2 separate regions of the Homo sapiens genome follow, and region 2 is linked to region 1. Evidence: fine-mapped expression QTL. A gene starts in region 1. The other region holds a variant in brackets. All regions are shown on one strand. Distances are between the middles of the regions. Region 1 holds the start of NRF1 (nuclear respiratory factor 1). Region 2 overlaps NRF1 (nuclear respiratory factor 1).

Evidence for each region. PIP is the estimated chance that this variant, and not a neighbour inherited with it, causes the effect. A credible set is the group of variants that fine-mapping cannot tell apart.
Region 2: its variant is the best candidate, but not a certain one, in a credible set for the expression of NRF1 in whole blood (TOPMed, PIP 0.51).

Annotation. Positions count from the first base shown.
Region 1 is chr7:129,608,720-129,614,091 of GRCh38, reverse strand. NRF1 (nuclear respiratory factor 1) reads right to left here and starts at 2,372. Exons shown (of 11, transcript NM_005011.5): 1 at 2,268-2,372. RefSeq lists enhancers at 1,085-1,224, 2,905-2,954 and a silencer at 1,525-2,514.
Region 2 is chr7:129,753,558-129,758,929 of GRCh38, reverse strand. NRF1 (nuclear respiratory factor 1) reads right to left here. Exons shown (of 11, transcript NM_005011.5): 11 at 1,854-3,912. The coding sequence ends at 3,749. It also overlaps the pseudogene RNA5SP244. Among named protein-coding and RNA genes, the nearest start is that of MIR182, 14 kb to the left of the region's middle. The variant A/G (reference allele first, on the strand shown) is at 2,428.

The sequences.
Region 1 (5,372 bases):
CGACTTGGGGATAAGAACTTTTCTTTGTTACAGGAGACTATGACCACTGACTACTAAGCAAAAAGTCATTTTCCCTCCTATATGTCGAGTTTGAGGCTGTGTGAGGAAATTAAAGGACTTCAAATAAGGATGGGCCAAAAGATTAAGTAGAGTTTTTGTTTTTGTTTTTTTAGATGAAGTCTCGCTCTTGTCCCCCGGGCTGGAGTGCAATGGCGCGATCTCCATCTCGGCTCACTGCAACTTCTGCCTCCCAGGTTCAAGCGATTCTCTTGCCTCGGCAGCCCCCGCCCCCGCCCCTCCCAGCAGCTGGGATTACTGGCGCCTGCCACCACGCCCAGCTAATTTTTGTATTTTTAACAGAGATGGGCTTTCACCATGTTGGCCAGGCTGGTCTCGAACTCCTGACCTCAGGTGATCCACCCCGCCTCGGCCTCCCAAAGTGCTGGGATTACAGGTGTGAGCCACCGCACCCGGCCGTAAAGAGTTTTCTTAATCTGATTATTGTTTTTTTTGGTCATGGGCCCTGTTGAAAGCCACTAAGTCCTATCAAAAGAAAAAAAAACCCCTTGACACAAAAAAATTCTGCCCACAATTTAGGATCCAAGTTAAGAATAAATATTCTACATTGCATGTGATAATTATGTCTGCTTTCGGACTCATAAAATAAGGAAATTACACTCAGATGCACGGAGAGAACTAGTCATATTTTCACTGTCTTACGGGGTAACCTGTCAAGAACTGTCAAATACAATTTTAGGGAGTCGGGATACTAATGAATCAAACACACACACACACACAAACAGCATCTCCAAGACTCCAGCACCCCCCTTTCCCAATTACTTACTGGTCAAGCCCAAAGGAAAAATAATTTTTTAAAAGGCTAGGCTGAGATGGAATGGGAAAAAGGATCACTGTGAGCACAGATGATGTCCCGGGACAAAAGCTCTGCCCAACACTGCCCAAGCTGACAGGCTCACTCACACTACCTTTCTCCTTATGCGTCTCTCAATACGCAGTCTCTGAACACTTAAAAAAATGTGAATTTTGCTCTGACCACATAAAGAAATCAGCACGATTGACACCAGCTCTAAAATAAGCAATTAATATATTCTAATCTAATGCTTAAGAAGAATGGAGAGCAGGCAACAGCTCCTCCAACTGGTTGGAGCAGATATCACTGGAAGCCCCCCAAGTATTAAGATTTTTAAACAACTTCAAGTTCTGGTGGGCACAGCCAAATACACTGCAGAAACTTTGGGACCAGCAGCCACGACACAACAGGTGAGAGAGGCAGCAGACATCATTGCACGATGGAGTGCACAACATTCAATGACAAACCCGAAAAGGTCTGGGGATATGGGAAAATACCATGCACACGGCCATCTCAGAGCCCCTGTCTTTCCAGTGGCAAAAGGTTCTGTTCCTTCGGAGGGGCGTGCCACTCCCCCTCTCCCTCACCCAGGGGACCACCACCCCAGGCACAGGAAGAACCGCGGCCCCTCCGCGGGCACATCTCAGCTGGGGAAGAAAACACAATGTCGCTCCTTATTTCTGCGTACAAAAGGACTTTGCGCCCTCCTCCTCGAACTGCCGCCCCGGCCACCTCCTAACTTGCAAGAAGGTGGGCAACGCGCCATATTCCAGCGTCCCCCAGTCTACCTGGGTAACAAGCCCACGCCACCCCGGCAGGAGGGAAGCTTCGGAGGTCGCCCAAAGAGCCAGCCTCCTCTCCCGCAGGAGACAGCGGCTCCCGCGCCCCAGCCCGGCCCCACCGCGCCGCCCGCCCGCCCGCCCGCGTACGAGAGCCGGGAAGGGCCGAGGGGGCGAGCCGAGAGCCGCGGCTCCGGTCCCGCGCAGCCCGCCCACCTCCCGCTCCCGGGCCCGGCGCACTCTCCCGCGCCTCCCGCTCCCGAGCTGCGGGAAGGCCGGGCCCCGGGTTCCACGGCGGGGAGAAGGCCGCGGCCCCGAGAGCCCCAGGCGGCGGAGGAGGCCGGAACCCTGGGGCTCTCGGGAGGGCAGCGCCTCCCTCCCGAGCCCGCCAGGACGCCTGGGGCCTAGTGCGGCCTGCGCATCCTCGGGGTGGCGGTTTGGCTGGGCCGGGCCGGGGCCCCCCGCCCGAGGCGGGCCGAATCCGGCGGGGGCCCAGGCCCAGAGCCGGGGGCGGCAGGGTGCCGGCTGCGGGGCGGGCCGGCCGGCCGGCGGGCGGGCGGCGTGTTGCGGCTGCGCCGGGGCTGAAATAGCTGGAGATTGCGCGGTAGGGCACTCACCTCAGAGCGGCTGCGCTACCGTGGGCCTGCGCCGTGGAGACTGCGACCGCGCCGGCTCCTCGCAGCCTCCTGCCACCAGCGGCAATGGCGAGCGCTGCCGCTTCTGCCGCCGCCGCCGCCGCCGAGGAGGGGGAGGGGAGGGAGAGGGCACGCACGCGACGCACGGCCCGGCTTCCCCGCCCGGCCGCCGCCATGATGAGGAGGTCGGCGCGGCTGTGCTGCGGGCAGGCAGCGGAGAGGGCTCGCGGCGAGGGCTCCAGCTTACCCCGCCGCCGCGTCGCGTGCACGGAGCGCTTCAGAGGTTTGGAGGGGGCCGGAACCTCAAAAGCAACTGGATGAGCACAACGCGGACGCCCCGGAGAAGCGGCGCAAGCGGGCCCAAAATGGTTGCTGATCAGACGAGTGGCATCTCTCGCCCCCCTACCGCGGGAATTGGGACCTCCAGACTGTGCCTGGGGGATCGGCAAGTGGTTCCCCTCTGGTTTTTTCGGCGCTGCCTTCCCGGTGGTATCCTCACTCTCTCTCTTTGAAATGACCTCTGCTTTCCTATCTCTAACTCTTCCCAGATATTTGAAAGCAAGTTTTTGTACAAAGCAACATATGAATGTATTCAGCCATTCGATCGTTCGGCGAACATTTCTAGGTGTCTCGTGCTGTGCCAGATATTGTTCTGAGTGCGCTGAAGATGCACCTGTTAGCAAGACAAAGTCCTGGCTCCCACGGAGCTTATTCGAAGCAATAGGGGCCCCCAAGCAGGTGCCTGAGAAGTAGGGAGGGGTGGACAGTGGGAAAACAACCTAACGGTGGAGACACACGAGGGGTCTTTTTTTACTTTTAGAAACGGGGGTGGGTGGTCACCCTATGTTGCCTAGGCTGGTCTCGAACTCCTGGGCCCAAGCGATCCTCCCGACTCAGCCTCCCAAAGTGCTGGTATTACAGGACACCATGCCCGGCAGAGGGGTCGTTTTTGTTGTTTTTTTAGTGTCGTCAGGAGACTCCCTCCATCAGAATTACTCAGGCTGATTGTTTTGAGTCCTGGGACCCAGTTGGTATCCAGAATCTTGGCTTGTTTGCCTAGGAACCTGCATTTTCACATCCCCATCTCCACACCCCTGGTGATTCTTATGCATATAATAATGTGAAAAGCATTGCATTGAAGAATTGCTAAAGGGTGTCAGAAAACGGATTAACAAAATCAGGAAGCTTTAATTTTCAAGATTCTATTAACCTCAAAATTCAACATATCCAAAAATTGAATGTCTTTTTCTCCAGTGTTTTCTAGGAGAGTGCCAACACTAGCCACCCAAGTGCTCAAGCCAGAAACCTGGAAATGATCCATTACTCTTTCCTCTGTCTCTGGAGTCCCCATGTTAAATTAGATGTGTTTGTTTGTGAGACAGATTCTCACTCTATTACCTAGGCTGGAGGGCAGTGGTGCAATCATTGTTCACTGCAGCCTCGACCTCTCTGGGCTCAAGGATCCTCCCACCTCAGCCTCCCCAGTAGCTGGGACTACAGGTCCCCACCACCACGCCCGGCTAATTTTTGTATTTTTAGTAGAGATGAGGTTTCATCTTGTTGGCCCGGGCTGGTCTCGAACTCCTAGGCTCAAGTGATCTGCCTGCCTTAACCTCCCAAAGTGCTGGGATTACAGCCGTGAGCCACTGCACCCAGCCCCAATTAGATTTTTAAAACTGTTGTTCCCTGTCAGTTCTTACTCTGGTTCAGGCTACTGTCATCTCTCCTAGAGACACTGCGGTAGACTCCTCTTGGTCTCCCTGCCACCGAAATTGCCCTCTCCAAATCCACTACAGCTTGAATGGTCTTTCAAGAAAGAAAATCATGTTTTTTCCCTGTTTAAGACTCTTAAAAAGATCTGATTAACACGTAGGATAAAGTCTAAAATTCTTTGAGGTGGCTACAGGGCCATTGGTGATCTCATCCCTGTTGCCATCTCTGACCTCATCTGCCACAGATATTTCTCAGGCTACACTCAAAACTGGGAAGCTCTCAGGTCATTTAAGCCTGGAAATTGTGCCACCTCACAACTGTTGCAAGGGCTGTTCCCTTTGCCCATAACTTCATTTCTCTCTACACCATCTATGCACTTACTTGAATCCTCACCTGAATAATTCTTACCATTCTTTCAGATCCCAACATTAATACCATCGCCTCCAGGCAGCATTTTTTCATCTCCCAAGATTGGGTGCATTAGACCCTTTGTCATCACACCCAGTACTCCCCACGTTTATTGAGCGCTCACGATGCGTCAGGCCCTAGTGGAAGCCTTTATGCACATTATCTTCTTTCTCATTTAATTATCAAGTAGAGCCCACAAGGTAGGTACTACCTTTTTTTTAACTTTTGAGACAGGGTCTCACTGTATCTCCCAGACTGGAATACAGTGGCGCAAACACAGCTCACTGCAGTCTCATCCTGGGCTCAAGCAATCCTCCCATCTCAGCCTCCTGAGTAGCTGGGACCACAGGCAGATGCCTGTTGCCCAGGCTGGTCTCCAACTCCTGGGCTCAAGCCGTTCTACCTTAGCCTCCTAAAGTGCAGGGATTACAGGTGTGCAACTGTGCCCGGCCTGGGTAGTTACTAATATTATCCCATTTTACAGATGAAGAAACAAGGACATATAGGGGTTACTTGCCCAAACCCAGACAATAAGCTAGATCTGAAAGTCATCAGCCTGACCTCAGAGTTGTACTTTTAACCATTATCAGGGTCTCAGGCCAGTACCCACTGATGAAACACATAAGTAACTTAGTGGGTCATTACCAACATTTCATTAAAGAAATAGAAAATGGCAGAGAACATCAAACTTAGTAAGGCTCTTGTTTCGTGAAACTTGTCAGATTCTCTAATATGATAAATACTAAATCTTACAAACATTGAAAATACAAAATTAAACAAAATATTACCAAGGTTAACACAAAAGTATGAATACTGCAGATCTGATTTATTTTACTATCCTCATCTTTAATGCAGAACCTTCTTAGGATTAAATGACATTTACCATTCTGAGCAAACTGAGGTTACTGCCCCAAACGGACTGGGCTTACCTTTGCAGGAGAACAGGGGAGGCTGTGTTTTGGCTGG
Region 2 (5,372 bases), 140 kb before region 1:
CTCCTGGTTTCTGTGAGCACCAGATCCTTGTGTGGAGCCTAGATGATAAACTACGTAACAGAGGACCTTTGAGGGCTCAAATGCGGTAAACAGCTCATTCTGCACTAGTGCTCTGTCCAGATGGTGCCTCATCACCTTGGACTGCAGCGGTTGGTTTATGTAAAGGTCTCCTCCTCACTCCTTGTTTCTCACAGGCAACTACCATGCTTCATTCACCTGGCACATGACAAGCATTCACGTAGTTAAGTGCAACTGACCGTCAGGTCAGGTCTGGTCTACAGATGGGTTTTATTTTGCTTGCAGAGTATGTAAATTTTTTATTTGTTGCGATCACATCTCGTACAAAAATCTGGATTCCCCAGATTCTCTGGACAATTTTGAAGTTGGGGCATTAGGGTCCATCTTCCTGCATGGTGACAATCAGCACCTAGGACAGGCTGCCCCGTTTAGATGGATGCTGTCCACTGTGCCTGTCCCCATCACTCCCTCCTCTCACATGGGAATTGCCTCAGCTTCCTTCATTGATTTGACCTCCCTGGTCTCTATAGACAGCGGAGTTAGCAGCTCCTGTTGGTGACTTAGGCAGGAATGGAAGAGGTCTCCATCGGCCCCACCAAAACCAGTTGTCAATACATGCCTGTGGCAAAGGCAGCATCTGAGGCTTGCCAGGCAAACAGCAGCTAGAAGACGCCTCTGGAGAGACCCTTGGTCAGCAGGTATTCTAAACAACCCAGCTATTTCATGGTAGTCAATAGCACGGATGTGTGGTTGATTTGGCTGCACTCAATCCTTTTTCTAGTCCAGTCTCTGGTGAAAAATAGGCGAGGGTATGCCATTTGTGCAAGAAGGGGGAAAGGTAGGCACTTGGCTTCACTGAACCACCATCAGGCATCAAGGAAAAGGCTTCTTGGCCTTCCCATCCAAGCAAGCATTCTAATCATGGTCACCAGGAAAGTGGCCAAGACACCCAACAATATAAAGAAAGGGTGGTGGGGGTGACAGCAGGTCATTCCAGGCTGAGGCCAGGGCATGCAGAAGCATGGAGGTGCAGGCTACTGGGGTCTATGAAGGGCCTAAGGATGGGGCAGGAGGAACAGCTGGAGCGATGGCATATGCCATGTTAAGAGAGTAAGCTGTGTGAGAAACCAGGGAGTGAGGATGCAGGGGAACAAGTCATGGCTTGAGGCTTCTGCTTGGAGAAAGAAAGACAATTCACTTTAATAGTAATTCCCAAGATGGAGAGGCACCATCACTCACCCTCATTTTTTATTTTTATTTTTTTTTTGAGATGGAGTCTCGCTCTGTTGCCCAGGTTGGAGTGCAGTGGTGTGATCTCAGCTCACTGCAACTTCCGCCTCCTGGGTTCAAGCGATTCTCCTGCCTCAGCCTCCTGAATAGCTGGGATTACAGGCGCCCGCCACCATGCCCAGCTAATTTTTCTATTTTTAGTAGAGACAAGGTTTCACCATGTTGGCCAGGCTGGTCTGGAACTCCTGACCTCAAGTGATCCACTCACCTTGGCCTCCCAAAGTGCTGGGATTACAGGCGGGAGCCACTGTGCCCGGCCTAGGATTTTTTAAATACGATTTTTTCCCCAGAACGTCAGTATAAGAAAACACGTTATATATGAAATGTATGAAATGGAGCAGGTCTGGTGATGGGGCTCGCAGGGGGCTCTGGGCAATCTTCAGTGTCTTCTTTACGGAGGTCCCCAGCGTCGGAGTGGCACAGGTCGGAGACCGCTGATCTCGAGTAGGACTGCATTTTAAACGCAGAACGAGCTGCCCCAAGATAGAGTTCCTTTTGCCTAAGAAGCCAAGAGCTCCTATAGAGATGAACAATTCCACTTCCTGTTGCCACATTTTTAACTATTTATTGAATGAGGCAGTCAAAGACAGAATGGGAAACAACACAGAATCCATGCTCTGCTACTGGGGTTTTGCTTTTTTCTTCGTCTTGGCAACTTCTCAAACTATTTGGAGGTTATTTCACCACAAAGGAACATGGACTTTAAAGTCCCTGGACAACTTCACAATGACGATAAAAAATAATAATTAAAAAAATAACAAATTGTAGAACTAGGACTATTTATATGTAAATTTCCCTCCCCTCCCCCCATTACGTACAGAAAAGAACATATAAAGAACATTAGATAGTTTTATATAAAACAAGCAAATACAAGAATCTGAAACTTCTCTCAAAGGTTGAGCAAGACGTGGAGAATCTTTTAATGTCGCATTAAAAAAACACATTAAATACACCATCACACACATGGGGAGAGCTGGGAGGAGGGAGGAGGAGCTGTCCCTGTACTCAAGGTTCAGAGATTTGGCCTGTTGAAAAGTCAGGTGAATTCAGCTACTGGAGACTCAGGGCTTGCAGCTGAGAAAGACAGAGTTAACGGTTACCAAGAACACCCAGATAGTC[A/G]ACACCTCTGAGGAGGCAAGCTGCTCCCGGCCTGGGCCACGAGGTTGCATCAAGGAACATGGGCCTCCAGGAGTCCCTTCTGAAGCAGGGCCTGATCCAGGAACACAGCAAACACCCTCAGCTGTTTTCTATGGCCAGGTGTCCCTTCTTCCCTTCCGCGTACTGACCGGGCCCAACCAAGCTTAGCTTCCAAGATCACACAAGATCAGGGGCGTTCAGGGTGCTGTGGCCACAGACCAGATGTCTCTTCTTGTTCATTCCAGCGCCTCCTCTGTGAAGCTACAGACAGTAGAGAAAATTGCTCCCACGGGTGTATCCTGGTCTAGGACGATTTTTCTTTCCTTCCTTTCCCTTCCACTGCCCCCGCCCCCTTCCCATCCTCTCCCCCACCATGCACGCACACACACAAGCACACTTACACGCACGCACTCCTCAAACCCCTAATACTTCGGTTACCTTCAGTTCATATATACGAGCAATTCAGGACTGACCTTAAAACCAGAGCAACATTTTAATAGTCATGAGATCAAGGATTCCTGGGAAGGAGAGGAGATGGGAGGCTGAGGCCCGGGAGCTTTCAAGACATTCATCTGCCTGTGGCAAGGTCAGCACCTGGGCCAGCCCGAGGAGCATCTCAGCTGGCAGACCACGCAGTCCCTGGACCTTGCAAGCACATCTCTGACCCACCCCATGCTGGAGCCTCTTTCCTCAGGTGAGTCCAGCAGGGAGAGTTCTGTGTGGCCACTGGGAGGCAGCTTTGGTGAAGGGCATGGTCACCTCCGCCTGAGTTTGTCAGTAGCTCAACGCATGACCCTGGTATGAACAAAAACTGGGTGACTGTGTCTGGCCACGTACCCTACCACCCACTAAACTGGGTGAATTATTGTTTCCACAGCGCACCTTGATTTCATACAGATAATTCCATGCGGGTTTCATACATATATATATATATATATGTATATATATACTTTATATATATGTAAATGTGTATGTCCATATGTACACATATACATATATTCACACTCACACATACACACACATAAGTATACACACACATTTCCGCAGAAAGAAGTCCTGCCACAATTTGGCTTTTTTGGGACAGTGAAATTGACAATGCAGTTTCTTCACCAATCCCAGAAAATCAAGAGTGGTGCTTTAAAAAATGCAATTCCAAAATCCGCTTTCTTCCTTTTAAAAAAAAAAAGGTTAACAAAACTTTCCTTCCAAAGTCGAGAGACTTAATTCCATTTGATTGCACCTCTGCAAACGTGTAAAAAATTTTGAAGTAGACTAGAAAACGATGCCATAATATGGCTGTATGTCACTGTTCCAATGTCACCACCTCCACAGCTTGGCCGTCCATGGTGACTGCGCTGTCTGATATCCTGGTGGTCACAGGGGCCATGGCCACCTGCACTGGTCCGTTGCCCTGGGCGAGGCTGGTCACCACAGTCTGGTACATGCTCACAGGGATCTGGACCAGGCCTGGAGAGACAAAGAGAAGACCGTTGGTGGGGCTCAGGCTCAAGTTCCCAGATGCTGGCTGGACGGGGGCACCCAAGTCTTGCCTTTGAGGTATCGTGGTCACCAGCCTCAGGTGATCACATACCCATGGCCCAGGCACAAAGACATCTCTTTCCCACCCCATTAAAATTTTTTTCATTAATTTTTAAGATTTATAATTGATATATAGTAACTGTTCATGTTTATGGGGTACAATGTGATGTTTCAATGCATGTATACACTGTAGAATGATCAAATCAAGAAAATTACCATATTAATCTCTTTAAAGATTTATCATTCATTGTGGTGACAACATTCAAAATCTAGCTATCTTGAAACACAGACTACATTGTTATTCGCTACAGTCACCCTACTGTGTAACTGAACACCAGAACTTATTCTTCCTTTGCACCTGCTGGCCAACCTCTCCTGCCCCCCTCCCCAACCCTTCCCCAGACTCTGGTAACTATTATTCTACTCTCTACTTCTAGGAAATCAACTTTTTTCCATTTTAACTTTTTTTTTTTTTTTTTTTAAGAGACAGGGTCTGGCTCTGTAGCCTAGGCTGGAGTGCAGTGGCGTGACCACAGCTCACTGCAACCTCGAACTCCTGGATTCAAGTGATCCTCTCACCTCGGTCTCCTGAGTAGCTGGAACCACAGGCGTGTGCCACCATGCCTGGCTAATATAATTTTTTTTTTTTTTGAGATGGAGTCTTGCTGTGTTGCCCAGGCTGGTCTTGAACTCGTGGCCTCAAGTGATCCTCCCACCTTGGCCTCCTGAATAGCTGGGATTACAGGCGTGAACCACCAACCCTGACCATTTTGATTTTTTTAAAACAGACTATCAGAAAAGAAAAGTTTAGAGAAATTGTGGAAACATGCCTTAGGGTAGGGCCTTCCCAGCTTGCCGTGAGAGGGCCCTGCCTGCCTCCGCATCTAGGAAGCACAGGCCCGTCAGGTGTGAATGTCCCCGGCCTGTCTTCTCCCTCTCAGAACAGGCCACCATTATTTTTCTTTGATATTTGGCTACACTGCCTTCTTCAACCCTCTTTCTGCCTATGCTTAAGTCTCTCTCAGCTTGAAAAGAAAAATCTTGTCCCTCTCCTATCCTGTCTTCTGGCCACTGCTCCGTCTATGTGCCTTCCTTCATAGTCAAGCTTATTTTATTTATTTATTTATTTTTAAAGCCTAGGTCACTTGTTTCCTGATTTCTAGATTTCACACACCAGTAAAATGTAAAAACACATTTTGGGGTCAACTTAAAAAAAAAAGACCCCAGCTACTCCCTAATATCACTATTATTTCAGAGTAGAAAGGATGGCTTAAAGGAAGAAGCACATAACCTCCATAAAGGTAGTCCTGCCTAAAAAGGGAAAGCTGATAATACATTAAAAAAAAGGATTCCCAGTAAGGCAGTAACTAACATATACATCAATCTCT